Linked DNA regions of Homo sapiens: regions 2 and 3 are each linked to region 1. The links come from fine-mapping of genetic effects on gene expression. A gene starts in region 1. Each other region holds a variant in brackets. All regions are shown on one strand. Distances are between the middles of the regions.

Region 1 (8,129 bases):
TGGGGAGGCCATGACGGGGCGCCCTCATACACAAACACCTGGACAAGCCTCATCTCAAGGCACCCCTGCACGGGCCTCAGGTTCGCCCATATTAGGATGCATTGCACGAAAATTCCTCAAGACAGGTCGGTATTACAGGTGAGCGGCCTGCACAAGGAGCTAACGCCAGCTCTGGGACAAGCTCTGCTAACCAGTGATTTTTGTTACAAAGCAGCTTCTGTGGAGTTCTCTCTGTCTTTAAAGATCTCCCCTTTGCCCTGGCCCCTCCAGTGTGCCTGTGATCTATCATAGCATGCAATCCCGTGCTATTCTCACTTAAATTTATTTGTTCTGGAGAGCCTGTTCCTTTGAATTTCCTTTTAGGTGGACAGTTCAAGACCCCTAACACATTAATCCACTTAATCCAAAGAGCTCCTCTTGTATCAGGGAAGGCCACAGGGACATCCCTGTCTTGTTCCTGACCTTGGAATTGCATTGCTTAGTTTCCAAACATGGGATTTCCCAGTTATCTTTTGTTATGAATTCCTGGCTCTCTGCCACTGTGAACATTATCTGTATGATTTCAGCCCTTTGAAACATGTGGACACTTTTTCATGGCCCAGCATACGGTCAAATTTTGCAAATGTTGTAAACATTCTTTCTGTATTGAAAACTTTTATGGTTTCCTGTACTCTGCAGCTATTTCCGATTTTGTCTTTTGTGCCTTGAAGCAGAGTGAGTCTTATCATCTGTGTCTGAGCCATCTGCTCCAAGGTTCCTGTGGTGCTAGTCGTGTCTTCTCTGCAGGATTGATTCACTTTGCAAGATGTTTGGTGCACTGAGACACTGGAAAGTTGGCAGCATCTTGAGATGTCATCAGTCCAGGGCCACGTTAAGATAATTTCGCGACTTGAGGGTTTTTTAGGCACTGTGACATTAAGCTAATTTCACAACTGTGTGAACCTGGGCCGCAGGGCTCTTCCTTGTCTTGTCCCCTGCTCTGCTGTAACCTGGCAGTTGTTGAAGGATGGGTTATTTCTGATCCACGTTTTCCTGAGGGTGAAGACTTCAGCTCCTATGAAGACTGCCCACCTGCCCCATCCCCCACAAAGACCCCACCGCTGGCATCCTGAGTGCCTTCAGGAGAAGCCCTCTGAGTGCTGGCTCGGGGGTCTGACAGATTTTTTTGACCACAGCCTCAAAATTCCTGACTCCTGGGTGGGCTCTTCAGTATATGCAAGATGGCCTCCAGGATTCTGGCTTTGTTCAGTGGAAGGGTCGACTTAAGCAGGTCACGCAGCAGTTCCTGGTGGTGGTGACTCCCAGCTTCTTTAGCTCAGCTCTTGAGTGATTTGCACTACACAGAAGGTACTGGAGACACAGTTACCTTTTCTGGAAATCAATGTTTGCAAGCACATTTGCCCTCCAAAGGTTGAAGGTTGAGTGAATTTGAAGTGGTTGGAGATTTGTTTGTAAACCACTCTTCTGCAGAATGAGAACGAAGTTGCTGCTTGGTTTTGAAGATACGGCCTTTTGTGGGAGGGCAGAACAGAAAAATCAAAGCTTGGATTTAGAGTTAAGGACACAGGAAAAGAATTATGAATATTAAAGACTGAGTTAATATGTGTCATATAGCAAATACTTTACATATTGCATGCAACATAGTAAGCTGTTCTATGTAACGGCCTCCACATTTCAGGATATCACTTGGTGACATTTCAAGGCATTTCTAAGAAACAAAACGTTAAACTTAATATTGGGCCAAAATATTGATTAAGGCAGCAGCTGAACACCCAAATATAATCTGGATAATCAAAGTCAAAAATAGGCGTTGGTATTTACTTTCTGTAGAATATAAGTAGAAACTATATAATACCAAACATCCAAACCTAGCCCAGTATAAAAAATAATTCTCCACTTAATATAGAAATCACAAAATGCAGTGTGGTGCCATGGCTTGGATCCCGGAACAGAGGTGCACGGTGGAAGTCCGCACTGCTTCTCAACACTGGACCCCAGACTGCAGCTCACTTCCATGCAGTGTTGCTTCATGTGTGCAAGCCCTTGTCAGTGTTTCATTAGTCCTCAGGACAGATGCCAAGGAGCTGCTGCTTAACTGCCTTGTCTGGTCTGATCTTAAGAAGCAAAACTTGATTGGAGCCCTGTGGTGCCCTGAAATCCAGAGCATGTTGTTGGGGGTGATTGATTTTCCTGGGTCTTTAGCAACATGTCTGATGTTTGCAGATTCTGTACCATGGGCCCTGCCGTCAGTCAAGTCCAAGAGCAGACGTGAGTCGAGTGGTCAGTGGGTTGCAGGTAACCATAGGCCAGCCGAGGGTGGCAGCCGTAGGTGGACAGCTGGGACTCCTTCCCTGTGGGTGACAGCTGTGGGTGACAGCCGTGGGTGGACAGCATGGGTGGCAGCCGTGGGTGGCAGCTAGGACTCCTTCCCTGTGGGTGACAGCTGTGGGTGGACAGCATGGGTGACAGCCGTGGGTGGACAGCTGTGGGTGACAGCCGTGGGTGGACAGCTGTGGGTGGGCAGCATGGGTGGCAGCCGTGGGTGGCAACTAGGACTCCTTCCCTGTGGGTGACAGCTGTGAGTGACAGCCGTGGGTGGCAGCCGTGGGTGGCAGCCGTGGGTGGCAGCTAGGACTCCTTCCCTGTGGGTGACAGCTGTGGGTGGACAGCATGGGTGGCAGCCGTGGGTGGACAGCTGGGACTCCTTCCATGTGGATGACAGCTGTGGGTGACAGCCATGGGTGGACAGCATGGGTGACAGCTGTGGGTGGACAGCTGTGGGTGACAGCCGTGGGTGGACAGCATGGGTGACAGCTGTGGGTGGACAGCTGTGGGTGACAGCCGTGGGTGGACATCATGGGTGGCAGCTGTGAGTGGACAGCTAGGACTCCTTCCCTGAGGGTGGCAGCTGTGAGTGACAGCCGTGGGTGGCAGCTGGGACTCCTTCCCTGTGGGTGACAGCTGTGGGTGACAGCCGTGGGTGGACAGCATGGGTGGCAGCCGTGGGTGGCAGCTAGGACTCCTTCCCTGTGGGTGACAGCTGTGGGTGGACAGCATGGGTGGCAGCCGTGGGTGGACAGCTGGGACTCCTTCCATGTGGATGACAGCTGTGGGTGACAGCCATGGGTGGACAGCATGGGTGACAGCTGTGGGTGGACAGCTAGGACTCCTTCCCTGAGGGTGGCAGCTGTGAGTGACAGCCTTGGGTGGCAGCTGGGACTCCTTCCCTGAGGGTGGCAGCTGTGGGTGGACAGCTGTGGGTGACAGCCGTGGGTGGACAGTGTGGGTGGCAGCCGTGGGTGGCAGCTGGGACTCCTTCCCTGTGGGAGGCAGCTGTGAGTGACAGCCGTGGGTGGACAGCCGTGGGTGGCAGCCGTGGGTGGCAGCCGTGGGTGGCAGCTGGGACTCCTTCCCTGACCTGAGCTCACTTCATTTGACCAGGAGCATCAAAAACAGTGTGTGCATCCAAACCACTGTGAATCCCCACACTGTAAAAACAAAAACTTCAAACGTCACATATTTTGTCCACTTTGCCCTCAATGCACGCTTTATCCATGTGAGTGTGAGCAGACATAGAGCACAGCCCTCACTCCTCCATCCACCAACCGATGGCAGCAGCAAGCACAGTCAGGCTTCTCAGCACACAGGATGAAGGAACAAGGGAAGACAGCCCCACGGTCTGACTCCGAGTCCCAGCTGAGGAACCAGCCAATAGCATGGACAGCACTACTTCCCATCAGCATGACTGTCAGGTATTTGTCGAGCACCTACTGAATATTAGGTATTTGTTGAGCACCTACTGAATATTAGGCTTTTTCTAGTCATTTTTGACCAATGACAATATCAGAGTAAAGGAAATTGATTATTCTAATAGAATTCCTCTGAATGTAACATTTAGATTGTATAGGCTAAGAAATCATAACTAAGCCTCATGTCTTAAAGTGCTGGTTGTATTTCTAGGTAGGAATTCTTACATCTAAATTCTACAGTATATGCAAGTTATCTAAAAATTAATACTTGTGAACAATTATGTATTAAAATAAATTTTTCTTTTCAAAAACCCAGGCAACTTTAAAATTTTCATTAAATCAACAATTTTAACAGCCTATAAAGGCTTCTGCCAAATGTTGAAGATCATCAGAGCTAGCTGAGTACAGAGCACCTCAGCCACCTCAAGAGTGGCAGGGGAGGAAATAAAGTCATATTTTGGCTTCACTCACATCTTATTACTTCCAGATCTGATTCTTTCTTTCAGACTGGCAGCCACTACATCCTGCTAATATTCAGAGCAAATTTCTCATGAAATGCCCTGTATCTGCTCCTCACATATGCAAAGCTGAACAATGAGTTCCCATCCATGGATTCTGCACTGGAGTCTCATGTGATGAGAGCTGTAGTGTAATGAAGACCACAGCTCTGACATGAAAATGATGATGCTATTTTCTCATTAACCAAATCCTCTGATGTGTCGTCGCCAACATTGCGCACGTGGCTTCAACGAAGATGAAACGACCGACAGCTGTCCTAGCGCCATGTTCACTCCATTCGTCTCAGGAAAAACCCATCCCAACCTGATTAGAGCAATGGAGAGAGGGTGGCTTAAAACAGCTAAGCCTTTGCATAACTCGTCTTCAAGTCAATCAGAAAAATTAGGGAGGATCTGCTGCCTAACCTTCAAACAAATATTTTGGAATTGTCTGAATTATATAAATTATTCAAGATAGAAGAGAAAGGAGATAAGGAAAGCAGAAAGAAAGGTACTAATTAAGAAAGGAAAGAACTGGAGAGCGGGAGAGGTTGGGAGGAAGGGCAGAAGAAAGAGGTAGGGGAGAGGAAGACAGCAAGGAGCAAAGGAAGGGTGGGCAGGAGGAAGGTTAGTTGGAGAATTTCTCGGATCTTATGTGTGATTATCTCCTTCCTCTGTAGCTGAGGAGTGGCATCAAAATGGCAACACTAAACTATCCAAGATCTCCTGAAAAAAAAAAACACCCCAGTGGAGAAGAAGATCCCACTCTTCACCATTATTCTTCGCGTGTTGTTTGAGAATCCCAGACTGTCTTCTGGCTCCCGTTCTTCCCCCTCCTTGGACGCCATGACAACTGTCACATGACCCTGCAAACACAGCGTCTCCAGGTCTGCACCAGGCCCCAGCTGCTCCTCTGTCTGGAATGAGCAAGACGATTTTGTTGCTGAGATGCACGGAGCCCCCCGGCTGACCTTTCCCTGTGCCAGTGAGTACCTGTGGCATGCAAGGGAGAAAGCCTATCAGGACCACAGGAGAAAGGTAGGAAAGTCCCCAATCCAGCCCTGACAGCTCAGCGGGCGGGCACCAAGCAGCGCCCACGAAATGCCTCTGCTTTCCCTGGAGTCCTGGAGGTGATTTTCTTTTTGGAGACAGCATGGTTGAAATGACATTTCCTAACAAGATTCATCATCTATGTTGCCATACAATAAAAATCTCATTAAATAGTTGACGGCTTTCTTTCTTTCTTTTTTTTTTTTGAGATGACAGCTTTCATGTGCCATGTTTTAGGGCCATCCTATTTCTAATCACAGCATATATTTAAGAAGTACTTAATTTTTCCTAAGTGACTTGAAAGCATCTTAAGACAAAAACACCAGAAGCATCCTTTTCTTTTTCTTTCTTTTTGTTTTTTGTTTTTGTTTTTGTTTTTGTTTGTTTTTGAGAGGGATGTTGCCATAGGGGTGTTGCCATGTTGGTCAGGCTAGTCTTGAACTCCTGATTTCAGGTGATCCACCTGCCTCAGCCTCCCAAAGTGCTGGGATTACAGGCATGAGCCACCGTGCCCGGCCCGGCATCCTTTTCTCTATCAAAACAGTGGACTCCAAGGGGGACTAAAAGCCAACCCTTGTCCCCATTAGAAGATATGTTATTATTTCCATTTATTGGATGCAAATGTGGACAATTGTTTGAGGGCATCGCCATGCAGATCTGAGGTGGCCTCCCACAGTCTTCTGCCCACACCTCAGTGGAGGCGTCAGAGAACGATGTTCCATGTATCATGTCTCCACATGTGTGTTGATCAGGCTGGAAATACTCTTAAGAAGGAGAAGTTTGGGTTTCTGTTTCTGGGAATGGAGACACTGCCCTGTAATGATCTTAAGTGACTACCCCAAGGAGTGAACTGCAGGTCAAGCATTTCTCTTCCTCCTAGGGTTGCAAGTGACATTGTGTGGCCTGGGCTGCAGGTCACACTCATTGCAAGGCGCCATAGCACCCAGCCCCCACCCCACGTCAGGCCTCTGCACCTGCTGTCTCCTTTGAGGTCCCCACTGGGAACTCTTCCCGGCTCCTTCCCCAGCTCAACCTCACTTCCTGGCACTCCGGTTCCAATATCATCTCCCTGGAGTCTTCTCTCTCCCCTCTGCCGCTCTCTGGTTCCTGGGCCTGCTACCTCCTGTTGCCACGTGATTGATGGGCATGTTCATTACTTGTGTTGTTTTCCCCACTCAGTGCTGACCACGTCCTGCCCACCACGATGTTCTCTGCACGTAGAGTGTGGAGTGAGCACTTGGTCAACCGTTGTCAGTAGGGAAAGATGGAAAGCAGTGGGTAAGGCAATAGCACATATGAATCAGTTAGCATTACAGTAATACTACAGGATAGAAACCCCATGGGTGTTTTCTTGTTTGCTTTTGTATCCCGGGGACTAGAATACCTCCTGCATGAGGTAGCTGGTCAGTAATCCTGCAGCCTAAGTGAGTAACCAGGCTCTGTACCTGAGAAACTGTAAGGTAAAGAAGGTTGAAATTGTCGTCATGGGAGGTGCAGAGATGATTGAATAGTGAACTTTGGTAGGTTGACTGGAGCCATGAGGCCCCAGGGGGCATAAGCTAGTTTAGCAGCTCTGTGACGTCGGAAACCTACAGGTACTGGGTCCAAGGATGGAGTCATTGGAACACCCCAGTGTGGCCCCCGAGTAGCAGCAAGGGGCATGGGCCGGGAACCTATGATTCTGGCACGAAAGTGTTGAAAAGAGGGACTGGGTGTCTGACCTGGAGGGGATGAAGTGAAGACAGAGAACCAGTCCAGAAAGAGAGAAACTGGAAGTCACATATCGTAAGGAACTGCTGTTGGGCACAGCTGACCAAGTGATGAAAAGGAGGTTGTGGTGAAGAACAGGGCAACTGAAAGCACAGCTTCCCAGCAGGGGCAGACACAGGTGGTGATGATGCCTGGGTGTCCTGGCAGGGGTATGCTGAGGGGCGTGAGGGTAGGACATGAAACCTGGCAAAGGAGGTTAAGGCAGCTGGCAGAGCCGTCCCACGGGGGTAGGGCTCATTTAGGACAAAGAAATGGGAGAAGAGCAAGATGGGCCCTGACGCTACAGGCCCCACTGAATGAGGAGAAGGGCAAGCTACAGCAGAAGGGTGAGGAGCAGCCGGGGCTGGAAGCAGCTACATGAGCAGGACCCCTCTAACACTCCACAGTTCTCCAACTGGCACTAAAACTTGAATGCAAACAATGTTTCTCCCAAATTAAGAGTGGAGAGAATCAGCTCTTTGAATAACTTAGTTTTTTATTGCTTGGCTGAGAATCTCTGAAACTGTAAAGGACCTTGGTAGAATAAGAGGAGATAAAATAAGAGGAGAAAAAAGACCTGTGGGAGAACAGTGCATCCCAGTCCCCTGATGACTGCCCTCCTAGAATAGGGGCCTCATCCTCAGCCCAGCCTTCCCCCTCAGAGCCTGAGTGGCCCCTGCCCCCAGCGCTCCCCAACGCACCTGACCCCTCAGCCAGGCTGGCCATGCCTGAAGGGGTGGCCTGCCCCTCCACACCTGTGGGTATTTCTAGTCGGGTGGGACGAGAGACTGAGAAAAGAAATAAGACACAGAGACAAAGTATAGAGAAATAACAGTGGGCCCAGGGGACCGGCGCTCAGCATACCAAGGACCTGCACCAGCACCGGTCTCTGAGTTCCCTCAGTTTTTATTGATTATTATTTTCATTATTTCAGCAAAAAGGAAAGTAGTAGGAGAGCAGGGTGATAATAAGGAGAAGGTCAGCAAAAAACGTGAGCAAAAGAGTCTATGTCGTAATTAAGTTCAAGGGAAGGTACTATGCCTGGATGTGCACGTAGGCCAGATTTATGTTTCTCTCCGCCCAA
Region 2 (8,129 bases), 19 kb before region 1:
TGAGGAGTGTGGAGGCCCGTGAGGTGTGGGGGTGCGGAGTGGCCGTGGAAGGTGTGTAGGGGATTGCAGTTGGGGTTGGGTGCTGGATGTGCAGGTAGAGTATAAGGGTAGGGGGTTAAGGTGTGGGGCATGGGGGAGATTGGGGAGGTTGGGAACATGGGGCAAAGTGGTGGGGGATGGGGGATGCAGGGGTGGGGATGGGGGATGCAGGGGTGGGGTGTGGAGTTATGGTGAGTGGGGGGCTGTAGTGGGGCGTTGGGGGTGGAGGGGGCTGTGAGGGTGTGGGGTGTGGGTCATGAGACATGGGACAGTGGGGGCTAACGGGGTGGGTGGGGTGTGGGGTGTGGGATGCAGAGTGTGGGAGCTCAGGGAGTTAGAAGGTCGAGTTAGAGGGTGTAGGTGTGGGGGCATGATGGTGGGGCCTGGGGGAGGGGGAGGGTGCGCAGGTGCAAGGTGTGAGGGTGGAAGGCTGGGAGACCGGTAGTGTGTGCGACTGTGGGGTGTGGAAGTGGGGGACTCAGGGGAGGAGTGGGGTGTGGAGGTGTGGGGCACGGGGTGGGGGGTTAGGGAAGGGTGGAATGTAGGGGGAGTTTGATGTAAGGGTGGGGGCTATGAGGAGGGGTGGGGTGTGAGGGTGAGGGTGGGGGCTTTGGGCAGGGTAGAGGTGTGGGGCATGGGGTGGAAGGCTGTGGGAGCAGTGGGGTATGGGGTGCAGGGCATGAGGGTGAGGGGCTAAGGGGAAAGTGGAGGTGTGGGGCATGGGGATGGAAGATTAGGGCCAGTGGTGGGGTGTAGGGGTGTAGGGTGTTACCTGGAGGGGGAAGGTGTGGGATGCACGGTGTGAGGGTGGAGGGGTGGGGAGGGTGGGTGCTGGGCATACGGGTGGACAGTGGGGAGGGGTGGGGGCCAGGCATGAGGATGAAGGGGTGGGGAGGGGTGGGTGCTGAGTGTGGGGGTGGAGGGTGGGGAGGGGTGGGGGCCGGGCATGAGGGTGGAGAAGTGGGGAGGAGTGGGTGCTGGGCGTGGAGGTGGAGGGGTGGGGAGGGGTGGGGTGCAGAGGGTTGGGAGGGAGGGGTGAGGGAAGGGGAGGTGCTGGGCGTGGGGGAGGGGGGGTGGGTGCCAAGCCTGGGGGTGGAGGGTGGGTGTGGTGGGTGCGGGGCCTGGTGGTGGAGGGAGGGTGGGTTGGGTGCTGGGCATGGGGTGGAGGATGGGTGGGGTGGGTGCTGGGTGTGGGGGTGGAGGGGTGGGGAAGGGTGGGTGCCAGGCGTGGGGGTGGAGGGGTGGGGAAGGGTGGGTGCTGGGCGTGGGGGTGGAGGGATGGGTGGGGTGGGTGCTGGGCCTGGGTTTGGAGGGGTGGGTGGGGTGGATGCCAGATGTGAGGGTGGGTGCCGGGCCTGGGGGTGGAGGGGTGGGTGGGGTGGGTGAGGTGGATGCCGGATGTGAGGGTAGAGGGGTGGGTGCTGGGTGTGGGGGTGGAGGGGTGGGGAAGGGTGGGTGCTGGGCGTGGGGGGGGAGGGGTGGGGAAGGGTGGGTGCTGGGCGTGGATGGGGTGGGTGCTGGGCGTGGGGGTGGAGGGGTGGGGAAGGGTGGGTGCTGGGCGTGGGGGGGGAGGGGTGGGGAAGGGTGGGTGCTGGGGCGTGGGGAGGGGTGGGGAAGGGTGGGTGCTGGGCGTGGATGGGGTGGGTGCTGGGCGTGGGGTGTGCACCTCCTCTGGGCTCCCCGACCTTCACCCTCGCCCTTCCCAGTCCTGGTGTCAAGGTAACTGGAATGTGTTTCTGTTTCTCTTTCTCCTTTTGATTGTTTTTCTCCCCAGAAGAGGAGAGGAAGTGTCCTTTCGGTCCCCTGTCCTGGGTCTCCTTGCTTGCCCCCACCTCCCCACCAGCCTCTGCCCTGTCCTTCTGCTCCGGAAAGTTTCCTCTGTGGAGGAAGCGTCCTGCCTCCCTTCTCTTCTCTGAAGCCTATTCGCCTGGCATTTCCTCAGCGCATGGTCCAGGACTTTAATCTCTCCTTGAGAATTCTCCATCTGTCTTTTTGAGGCATATTCTGGAAACCTCACTGGACCCTGAAGTCCATCTCTTTCGTGGGATTTTCAGTTCAGAAATCATATTTTAAACATCTTTCCTGCTCTCTGCCTGTTCTTAACTAGTATTCTGTTCTTATGTTACCTATATGCGTATTTTCTTGAATATTCTGAGGACAGTAATTAGATCTTTAACTTCATTTTTTGTTTTCCCACTTAGCTGTTTTCTCTGAGGTCAGCTGTCACCTTTTTTTTTTTTTTTTTGAGACGGAGTTTCACTCTTGTTGCCCAGGCTGGAGTGCCCAGGCTGGAGTGCAATGGTGCGGTCTCAGCTCACCGCAACCTCCGCCTCCCGGGTTCAAGCGATTCTCCTGCCTCAGCCTCCCGAGTAGCTGGGATTACAGGCATGCACCACCATGCCCGGCTAATTTTGTATTTTTAGTAGAGACGGGGTTTCTCCATGTTGGCCAGGCTGGTCGTGAACTCCCGAACTCTCAATCCACCCACCTCGGCCTCCCAAAGTGCTGGGATTACAGGCATGAGCCACCACGCCCAGCCAGCTGTCACCTTTGTGGATCCTCCCCCTCTGTCGCTGGTTTCTATGGAAAGTCTGGAGAAGCCTGCTCACCTGTGTCTAAGAACCAGTGGCTCATTTAGATGGGATACTGTGGGTTTTCCGTGGGGTCCTCCAGGTGGAAAGGTGAGCTAGGGGTGGAAAGGTAGCTGGGGGTGGAAAGGTGAGCTGGGAGGGAATCCACAGACGGGGCGTGGCTGTGCTTTATTTAGGACAGATGGGTGAGGAGCAGGCAGCAGGCTAGCATCTCTCCCTTCCCCCGAAACACTGCAATCCACACTAGAATAAGGCACATATACACCATGGAATACTGTGCAGCCATGAAAAAATGATGAGTGCATGTCCTTTGTAGGGACATGGATGAAGCTGGAAACCATCATTCTCAGCAAACTATCGCAAGGACAAAAAACCAAACACTGCATGTTCTCACTCATAGGTGGGAATTGAACAATGAGAACACATGGACACAGGAAGGGGAACATCACACACGGGGCCTGTTGTGGGGTTGGGGGGAGGGATAGCATTAGGAGATATACCTAATGTAAATGACGAGTTAATGGGTGCAGCACACCAACATGGCACATGTATACATATGTAACAAACCTGCACGTTGTGCACATGTACCCTAAAACTTAAAGTATAATTAAAAAAAAAAAAGATTTTACCCTGGGGCCCTAGACCCAGGCTGCAAGCTGTGGCCACACCCAGGATGCTGACTCCAGGGCCGTGAATAAGAATCTTCTGACGCTGCCTGGGAACCTGCTGGCTTCTTGGCGGGATACAGACGCAGGCACGGGTTGCAGAGGTGACTACTGCCAGGCACTTGTTCACAGGCAACTGGAATTACCAGCCCCCACCCCGTTTTCAGCCCCACATCTATCTCCCTTTGACCTCCCAGCTCAGTGCCACTCTGGGATCCCTCAGCAAGATGACCCTGGCCTCCACCATTGATCTCTGAGCATCTCTGGCTGGGC[G/C]CCTTCACCCTGCCCCACCGCCCACACCCTTGCATCCCCTTCCACCTTTGGAAATCATTGGCCATTCTCATCTGCCAGCACCTCTATTCCTGTTCTCTTTGGGGCTACACGTTTCTCCTTGGACTTTGTTTCAATCCAACTGGGCCTGAAGAGGAGGGAGGCCCTGCATTCAGGGTGCCCAGCAGCAACTGCCCTCCACTTAGCGGGAGTTCAGGACAGGACAGAGTGCTTAGACATCTGGGGGCATTCCAGCACTTCCAAAGACCCCGTGCGTGGTGTTCTCAACGTCTGTAAAATGTGGAGGTGAACATTAGACTATTGCTCTCCTAAGAACTTCAGTCACGCTGAGCACAGGGGGTAAATTCATCCCTGGTCGCATTCTTGTGAAAGGCATTATGTAGCAGATCATCTTTTTTTTTCTTTAATTTCATTTTATTTTATTTTAAGTTCTGGGATACATGTGCAGGACGTGCAGCCTTGTTGCATAGGTAAACGTGTGCCATGGTGATTTGCTGCACAGATCAACCCTTCACCTAGATATTAAGTCCAGCATACATTATCTTATTTTTCCTGATGCTCTCCCGCCCCCCAACCCCACGACAGGCCCCGGTGTGTGTTGTTCCCCTCCCTGTGTCCATGTGTTCTCATTGTTCAGCTCTCACTTATAAGTGAGAACACGCAGTGTTTGGTTTTCTGTTCCTGTGTTAGTTTGCAGAGGATAACGGCTTCCAGCTCCATCCATGTCCCTGCAAAGACATGATCGCATTCCTTTTTATGGCTGCGTAGTATTCCATGGGGTATATGTGCCACGTTTTCTTTGTCCAGTCTATCATTGATGGGCATTTGGGTTGATTCCATGTCTTTGCTATTGTGAATAATGCTACAATGAACATACGCATACGTGTATCTTTATAATAGAATGATTTATAATCCTTTGGGTATACACCCAGTAATGAGATTGCTGAGCCAAATGGTATTTCTGGTTCCAGATCTTTGAGGAATCACCACACTGTCTTCCACAATGGTTGAACTAATTTACACTCCCACCAACAGTGTAAAAGCATTTCTATTTCTCTACAGCCTCACCAGCATCCGTTGTTTCTTGAGTTTTTAATAATCTCCATTCTGGCTGGCGTGAGATGGTTTCTCATTGTGGTTTTGATTTGCATTTCTCTAATGATCAGCGATGTTGAGCTGTTTCTCCTATGCTTGTTGGCCACATGTATGTCTTCTTTTGAGAAGTGTCTGTTCATGTCCTTTGCCAACTTTTTAACAACAAGGTTGTTGGGTTTTTTTCTTATAAATTTGTTTAAGTTCCTTGTAGATTCTGGATATTAGACCTCTGTCAGATGGAGAGTTTGCAAAAATTTTCTCCCATTCTGTAGGTTGCCTGTTCACTCTGATGACAGTTTCTTTTGCTGTGCAGAAGCTCTTTAGTTTAATTAGGTCCCATTTGTCAATTTTTGCTTTTGTTACAATTGCTTTTGGTGATTTCATCATGAAATATTTGCCCGTGACTGTGTCCTGAATGGTATTGCTGAGATTTTCTTCTAGGGTTTTTATAGTTTGGAGTTTTACATTTAAGTCTTTAATCCATCTTGAATTGATTTTAATATAAGGTGTAAGAAAGGGGTCCAGTTTCAATTTTCTGGATGTGGCTAGCCAGTTTTCCTGGCACCATTTATTAGACAGGAAATCCTTTCCCCATTGCATGTTTTAGTCAAGTTTGTCAAAGATCAGATGGCTGAAGATGTGTGGTCTTAGTTCTGAGTTCTTTATTCTGTTCCATTGGTCTATGTGTCTGTTTTTGTGCCAGTGCCATGCTGTTTTGGTTACTGCAGCCTTGTCTGAGGTCAGGTAACTGAAGCATCCAGCTTCGTTCTTTTTCCTTAGGATTGTCTTGGCTATATCGGCTCTTTTTTGGTCCCATATGAATTTTAAAGTAGTTTTTTCTAATTCTGTGAAGAACGTCAATGGTAGTTTAAAGGGAATTGCATTGAATCTATAAATTACTGTAGGCAATATGGCCATTTTCACAACATTGATTCTTCCTGTTCATGACCATGCAGTGTGTTTCCATTTGTTTGTGTCCTCTCTGATTTCCTTGAACAGTGGTTTGTAGTTCTCCTTGAAGAGGTCATTCACTTCCCTTGTTAGCTGTATTCCTAGGTATTTTATTGTCTTCGCAGCAATTGTGAATGGAAATTCATTCATGATTTGGCTCTCTGCTTGTCTATTATTGGTGTATAGGAATGCTTGCAGTTTCTGCACATTGATTTTGTATCCTGAGACTTTGATGAAGTTGCTTATCAGCTTAAGGAGATTTGGGGCTGAGATGATGGGGTTTTCTAGATATAGGATCATATCATCTGCAGAGACAGTCTGACTTGCTCTCTTCCTATTTGAATAACCTTTATTTCTTTCTCTTGCCTGATTGCCCTGGGCAGAACTTCCAATACTGTGTTGAATAGGAGTGGTGCGAGAGGGCATCCTTGTCTTGTGCCAGTTTTCAAGGGAACGATTCCAGCTTTTGCCCATTCAGTATGTTATTGGCTGTGGGTTTGTCATAAATGGCTTTTATTCTTTTGAGGTATGTTCCATCAATACCTAGCTTATTGAGAGTTTTTAACATGAAAGGATGTTGAATTTTACCAAAGGCCTTTTGGTAGCAGGTCATCTTTACAAATGTTGTATCTACTCCTGACTCATTTTCAAAGCAGGACTCACCGTGACCCCCCCTCATCCCGCAATTGTTCCACTGCCTCGTCATTCGTCCCCAGCTTGTGAGAACGCTCACGTTGGCCCTCCGTGCCCCTCCTGATTGTCACCCACTGGGTGAATCAGTTTCCTGAGCAAAGGTTCGCCTCCAATGAGGTCAACGCACATGTGGCAGGGACCCAGTATGGTTTGTTCGGAAACCCGTTTCATGCGGAGCCAGCAGAAGCCACGTTAAACGCACGCGTTCTTCCATCCCTCTGCTCACCGGAAGCGAGCTTCCCAAGGCGGGCACGGCGCCGCCCCCCCAGTCACGCGGCTTCCGCTTCCGGTCGTGCCCTCTCGCCTCTAACTAGAGAACGCCTCGCGGTGTGAGTGAAACTCTGGCGGCCTCGCTAACACGCCAAACCTCTGTCCTCAGAATACGAAGGGCAAAGTGTGTCCCACTCACGCGCAGGCTTCCCCGCGGCGGCCACAGCGGCGGGGGGCGGGGGTCGTGCTCACCGTCGTCCAGTTCACCGGCATGTTTTCAATCAGCCATCACGAGCGAAGTGCTGCTTCGTGTCCACCAGGGAAAGCTTCAGGGAGCACGTTATTGGCACTCAAGATGCCAGCCATGGGCTGCCTGGAACGACGGTTTTTATCATTTATGTGAGTCCTGGGACATTTTCTTCCAACAGACCTAAGTATGTATGACACCAGCATATTACACGAAGCCGAGAGGGGGCTGCTCTGGGTGAGCGTGGAGGAACACACGACCCCTCCCACGCTCACGTGCCCACAACCTCCAGGACAGCCCAGCCTGGGTGAACTGCAACTTCTTTAGCTCAAGGGACATCTGCTTTTCCCCAGAGGGGCCCCTGGTGCAGAAGCAAGTTGGGGAGTGTGCAGAGCCGGGAAGAAGCAAAGCGAGGGTATGGGTGGGAGGGAGTGGGAATCCTTGGATTTGGCAGAGAACAAGTAAATTTTCGGAAATCATAGTCAGCGTGGTCTCCACAAAGATGAGAGGGCAGGAACTCGATTGGAAGGGGGCCAGTGAAGCTGCTGTCAGGAAGCTCTCACAGGGCAGTAAACAGCTCCTGGCACCCGGAATAGGAGGAGGAAGTCGAGAACCCACAGCCGCCCTGCCCAGCCTGGCTCCTCCTCACCCGCCCAGGCTGCTGTGCTCCTCACGGGAGGAAAACCCGCCTGCGTCCAGCTACCTCCAGGAAAGCAACAACTGCCCGTCCTCGACTAAAGGCCAAACCTTTTAACATTTTTGTCCTTGACCACGGCATCAGCTGTGCTGTCTACAGAAGGAACTATATTATTCCCACTTAAATAGCTCGGTGTTTCGTCAAGAGAGTGCAAACACGAGGGCTTCGGTAGAGGGAGGAGACACTGGCTCAGGAACCAGAGCTCACGGTTCCTGCTGTCTCTGCCCCTTGACCTCGGTGTGAGGCGGCTGCGACTGGGTCTCTGCTGTGTAAATATTGTGCCTGAGGGCCATTTTGACAATGACCGTTTCTACTTTAAAAACAAAGCAGACCAAGGGAGTCTCTGGTCCAGGGATAAGGTGCCTGCAGTGCTTTTCCGACACCTAAATCTCTGCTTTGTCCTGAGAGAAACAAGCGTCACGAACTTAGCTCACTGTTGGTGAAGTGACGGCCGCCAGGGAAGAGTGCAGGGATCTCAGGAGAGACGCTCGGGTCCTTTTTCAAAACCAGTGTGATGCACGATATGTGACTACTCGCCAGAGTCTCGGGAGAGTGTGACGAGCGATGGGTGGCTACTCACCAGAGCGACTGGATTTCTGTCTGAGGCTACTGCATATGCTGGGTCTTAGCAAGCAACGGCCATGCGGCCA
Region 3 (5,000 bases), 63 kb after region 1:
TACCTGTTGTGCTTAGTTCACATCTCCCCTACTGTAACCTCCTGGGGCAGGGCCTTACTGCTTTTGAATCCTTGGTGCCTAGTAAACAGTAGGTTCATAATAAATATGGTTTAACAGGACTGGATTTTTTTTTTAACTGCAAGAGTAAAAGGAGAAATTATGAAATTAGTTCTATTTTATGCTTATGGCTTTCTTTGAAAGTGAAGATACATATTATTTTGACCACTACTTAAACAAATTAATTTCTTTCCTAGTTGTATGAAGCATGTCGTTACCTTGCAGCTAGGTGCCATGTAAGTATGCTCATAATTTCATTTTTATTTGGTTGAATAAAATGAGTGTTATGCATCTCTTAAATATGTGTGAGAATTTTAGTGATGGAGCTTAGCAGGTTAGTAAAGTATTTCATGAGGAAGTGTTCCTTTCCTTAGTCATGTTTGCTATAAAATACTGATTCTTCGTTTACCACATGCTGACATGCATGAAGAAAATTCTACTTTAGACATTTCACATTTAAATAATGGGCATAGTATATGTTATCCTTTAAAAATTCGGATCATGTGTTTCGTGTTAGAAGTCGTGAGTGATGAGCGGCACTTCTGTTTTCCACGTAGTATGCTGCAAAAGAGCACCAGCAGGCCCTTGATGTTCTTGACATGGAAGAGCCCATCAATAAAAGATTATTTGAAAAATACTTGAAGGACGAAAGTGGCTTCAAAGATCCTTCCAGCGACTGGGAAATGTCACAGTCTTCAGTAAGTAGTACTGTGAGCACAGCTCAGTAACGGCGGCGAGAATTGCCCTCATTACGTGGCAGAAACACATTATCTTCTTTTACTTATTACTATATTAAAACAATTGTGGTTGCCAATTTATTTAATTTGCCCACCAAAACCAAAAAAGATTCTGAGACATTTCTGAGCCCTTAGTTGCAAGCTGTAATTGTATCCGCAGATGCCTGCATCCAAAATAGGCTGGCTTGAAACTTCCTTCTCATATTTGATGCCTTAAGCTACTCCCTAAAAGTGGAATAATTTTTCTTCTCCTTTCTGTGTTTCAGCAGTGTTTTGGACCTACACCAAGAAACTTTGATTAGCGTACATTGTTTCTTTCCAGGAAATGGTTTTGTGTTCTGTTTGCTTCAAAGTACATTGCTATGTAATTGTGTATATTTCAGTTTGTATACTTCATATCTCCATGAAATTGCACATTCCTTGCTGGCAGACATCATATAGTAACTTATTAAGTGACATTTACAGATCACTAATCTGGATTTAAAAAAAAAAATAAAAACTTATTGAGGTATAATTTATATGCCATGCAGTTCCCCCATTTAAACTGTATGGTTTGATTCCTTTTAGTGTATTCACAGAGCTTTGCAAACCTCACCATGGTCAATTTTAGAATATTTTTATTATTCAGAAAGAATCCCTGTAAGCCTTACCTGACCTACCAATTTCTCTTTCTTCCCACATCTTTTTTTTTTAAATTAAGACAGGGTCTTTGCTTTGTTGTCCAGGCTGGAGTGCAGTGGCACAATCACAGCTCACTGCAGCCTCAACCTCCCAAGCTCAAGTGATTCTCCCACCTCAGCCTCCCGAGTAGCTGGGACTACAGGCGCCCGCCACCATGCCCGGCTAATTTTTTGCTATTTTAGTAGAGACGGGGTTTCACCATGTTAGCCAGGATGGTCTCGATCTCCTGACCTCGTGGTTTGCCCACCTCGGCCTCCCAAAGTGCTGGGATTACAGGTGTGAGCCACTGTGCCCGGCACAGTTGGCTAAATTTTTTAAAAAATGTTTTGTAGAGACAGGGTCTCACTGTGTTGCCCAGGATGGTCTCAAACTCCTGGGCTCAAGTGATCCTCCTGCCTTAGTTTCCCAAAGTGTTGGGATTACAGTCATGAGCCACTGCACCTGGCCCATTTATTTATATTTTTGGTAGAAGTTTATTACTTGACTTTTCACCTTAGATAGTTATTTTTAAGCATAAAAGAATATTACACATTCTAGGTTTTTGTTTTTGTTTTTTTTTCTGGCCACTCATTAATGTATGTGTTGGGAAGCAGATTCTTCTGTTAAGAAATGCATTTATGAAAGTGTGTGGTACAGTCATTATTTTGGGACCTCTTATCCATTAACTTATTTGCTATGAAATGTGTGATTTATTTGCAACGCATTATTATTTATTTTGTGAAATTACATTTTTAAAAAACAACTCCTAGGATATTGCTTAGTTCGAAGACTCTCATAATTCATTATTTTTTCTAAAATTTTACTTTATGAATCTTCTTCATATCCTTAATGATACTAGCTGCCTGTTGCTGGATCATCTTTAAATTCAGTTATGTGTTCGAGGTCCAGAGTCTAGAATGTGCATCAGATTTCCACATCTTCGTGTTTATGGTAGTCGTGAGATGGCTGTTGAACGCCTTACTATGTGCTAGCACCACAGAGATGGTAGCATCTCTAGCCCTCACAGACTTCTATAAGTTAGATAGTAAAGAGTTCTATAAGTTAGATAGTGTTTTTATCTTTTTACAGATGAGGATAGGAAATGGAGGCCAAGAGAGGTTCAATCACTTGTC[C/T]GAGGTTACAAGTAATTGGCAGAGCTGGGGTTTGAACTCAGGTCTGTGCTGCCTCAGCAGGCCATTGTGCTGACTGCTGTGACCACTCTGCTGCATTGCTGCCAGTTTCTGCTCATTAAGATCCTTTTGAGGGGTGTCTGCCTATCACACTGTCAATCTTGGAGTTTTATACACATGCACACACACTCTGCCATCTCTAAATCATTGCACTGTTTTGGACAAAACAGGTAATGAACCTAGTAGCCGTGACATGTACTTTTGTTATAAAGATGTGTTGGAACAGAGCAGTTGAAGCCCAGGGAAGGTGAATTGAAGAAGCTTTGCTGTGCATTTTTTGTGTGTTTTTATTTATGCCTTGACAGTTGTGATTGACTAAATCCTTTTAAATGCAATAAAAACTTCTCAGCATTCAAATACACAATTCTCTATCAAAAGTTAAGTTTAAGGGCCAGGCATGGTTGCTCATGCCTGTAATCTCAGCACTTCGGGAGGCCAAAGTGGGAGGATCACTTGAGGCCAGGAGTTTGAGAGCAGCCTAGGCAACATAGCAAGATTGTCTGTACAAAAAATTTAAAAAATTAACTGTTTGTGGTATTGTGCACCTGTAATCCTAGCTACTCAGGAGGCTGAGGCAGGAGGGTCATTTGAGATCATAGGAGTTCAAGGCTGCAGTGAGCTATGATCGCACCACTGAACTCCAGCCTGGGAGACAGAGTGAGACTCTGCCTCTAAGGAGAAAAAAAAAAAGTTAAGTTTAAAAGTACTGACTTAATATGTGACTCATCATTTTTCCAACAGATAAAGAGTTCTATCTGTCTTCTACGCGGGAAAATCTATGATGCTCTAGATAACCGAACCCTGGCTACCTACAGCTACAAAGAAGCTTTGAAGCTTGATGTCTACTGTTTTGAAGCGTTCGATCTTTTAACATCACATCACATGCTGACAGCACAAGAAGGTTTGGAAACTCAGGCTTTTTTGTTTTATGTTTAGCAAAATTAATATTGTTTGGATTTTTTGCCTCTGAAATCTTCTAAGTCAACAACAGGCCACATACAGGTTTAAATAGACCTACTCACTTTCTTAATGTCTTCAAATGTAAAGCACGTTGCAGAATGCAGTATTGTACGGTGCCTTGTGCTGTCCGAATCTAGGGATTGTGATAGGAAGAGGCCATCTTTTTGAGAAGTGATTGAGATAGTATAAACCAGGATTTCAGTATCTCATGCAGTGATTCTCAACCGTGTTGCTCTTTACATCCTTGGGAAGACAGAGAAACATCCATGTCCAGTTCCCAACTCCAGAGCAGATGCTTTAAAGCTCCCAGGTGATCCTAATGTACCACAGGCACTGAGAATCAGTCCAAGTATGTTGGCAGTGGTGTGAGGTGCGTCAACAAGGGAAACAGAAAATAGAGTGGTTGGATTAATGGGATTCTAACATATTTTAGCCTAGTGCAGTGGTTCTCAACCAACCAGAGTGATTTTGCCGCCCCCTGCCCCGGGAACAGTTGGCAATGTCTGGAGATGTTGTTTGTCACAGCTTAGGGGCAGGGAGGGAGGTTGAGAGGTTGCTGCTGGTATCTAGTGGTTAGTGGCCAGAGGTCCTGCTTAGCACCTGCAGTACACAGGCTCCCCTGTTCCCAGCAGAGCAAGATCCACGCAGTCAGGAGTGCGGAGGCTGGTGGTTCTTAGGTGACAAGAGCCACCTGGGGACCTGCCTCAGCCCTGAAAGAGTAGCCTCCACCCACCAGATGATTCCCGTCTTCAGGCCTGGAGCCACTGTGTCAGCTTCTGTTGCACATTTTGATCTTATGTTCTCTTTTGAGTTTGATTTACTTAGACCAAGAACTGTAGAATCATATTTTTAGTTGTTGGCTTTTTCCCCTCTATAAATATTATGAGGATATTCTTTTTTTTCTCACCATTTTTAAGAAAAAGAACTTCTTGAATCACTACCCCTTAGCAAGCTGTGTAATGAAGAACAGGAATTGCTGCGTTTTCTATTTGAGAACAAATTGAAAAAAGTAAGTAAAACCAAAGAGTTAGCACTTGCTTTATGTAAATATCTTATTCCATAAAATTTGGCATCTAGTCTTATATTAAGTTTTCAAAATTAAAACTTTTTAAATTTAGCACATTTTTAAGAATAGAGCGTTTAAGATACATAAGATTCCAAAAAAAAAAAGCTTTCAAAAATACCTTTTTCCTCTGAAAGACTCCTTATACTAAAAGATTGAATTACCAAGTAAATGTAAATGGAATGGTGTTGCATGGAAATGAAGATTTTTTTGTTATGCTTCCTGAATGTTTACTTTGAGAAATACGTCCCGCTGTGGAATTCTGTTCTAAAATTGAGAAGGGAATTAAACTTACTGAGAGGAGTACTTATAAAACCTAAAGTTATAAGTTTT

The links.
Region 2: its variant is fine-mapped to the expression of CFAP97D2 in blood mononuclear cells (TOPMed, PIP above 0.99). The same link has a PIP of 0.9 or more in whole blood.
Region 3: its variant is fine-mapped to the expression of CFAP97D2 in whole blood (INTERVAL, PIP 0.94).

The regions. Positions count from the first base shown.
Region 1 is chr13:114,174,137-114,182,265 of GRCh38, forward strand. It overlaps CFAP97D2 (CFAP97 domain containing 2), which reads left to right and starts at 5,121. Exons shown (of 4, transcript NM_001395229.1): 1 at 5,121-5,284. The coding sequence starts at 5,195.
Region 2 is chr13:114,154,734-114,162,862 of GRCh38, forward strand. No RefSeq gene overlaps it. Among named protein-coding and RNA genes, the nearest start is that of CFAP97D2, 20 kb to the right of the region's middle. RefSeq lists an enhancer at 7,019-7,919. The variant G/C (reference allele first, on the strand shown) is at 3,569.
Region 3 is chr13:114,238,736-114,243,735 of GRCh38, forward strand. CDC16 (cell division cycle 16) reads left to right here. Exons shown (of 18, transcript NM_001078645.3): 4 at 255-293; 5 at 615-755; 6 at 3,386-3,545; 7 at 4,522-4,613. Among named protein-coding and RNA genes, the nearest start is that of MIR548AR, 3.3 kb to the right of the region's middle. The variant C/T (reference allele first, on the strand shown) is at 2,588.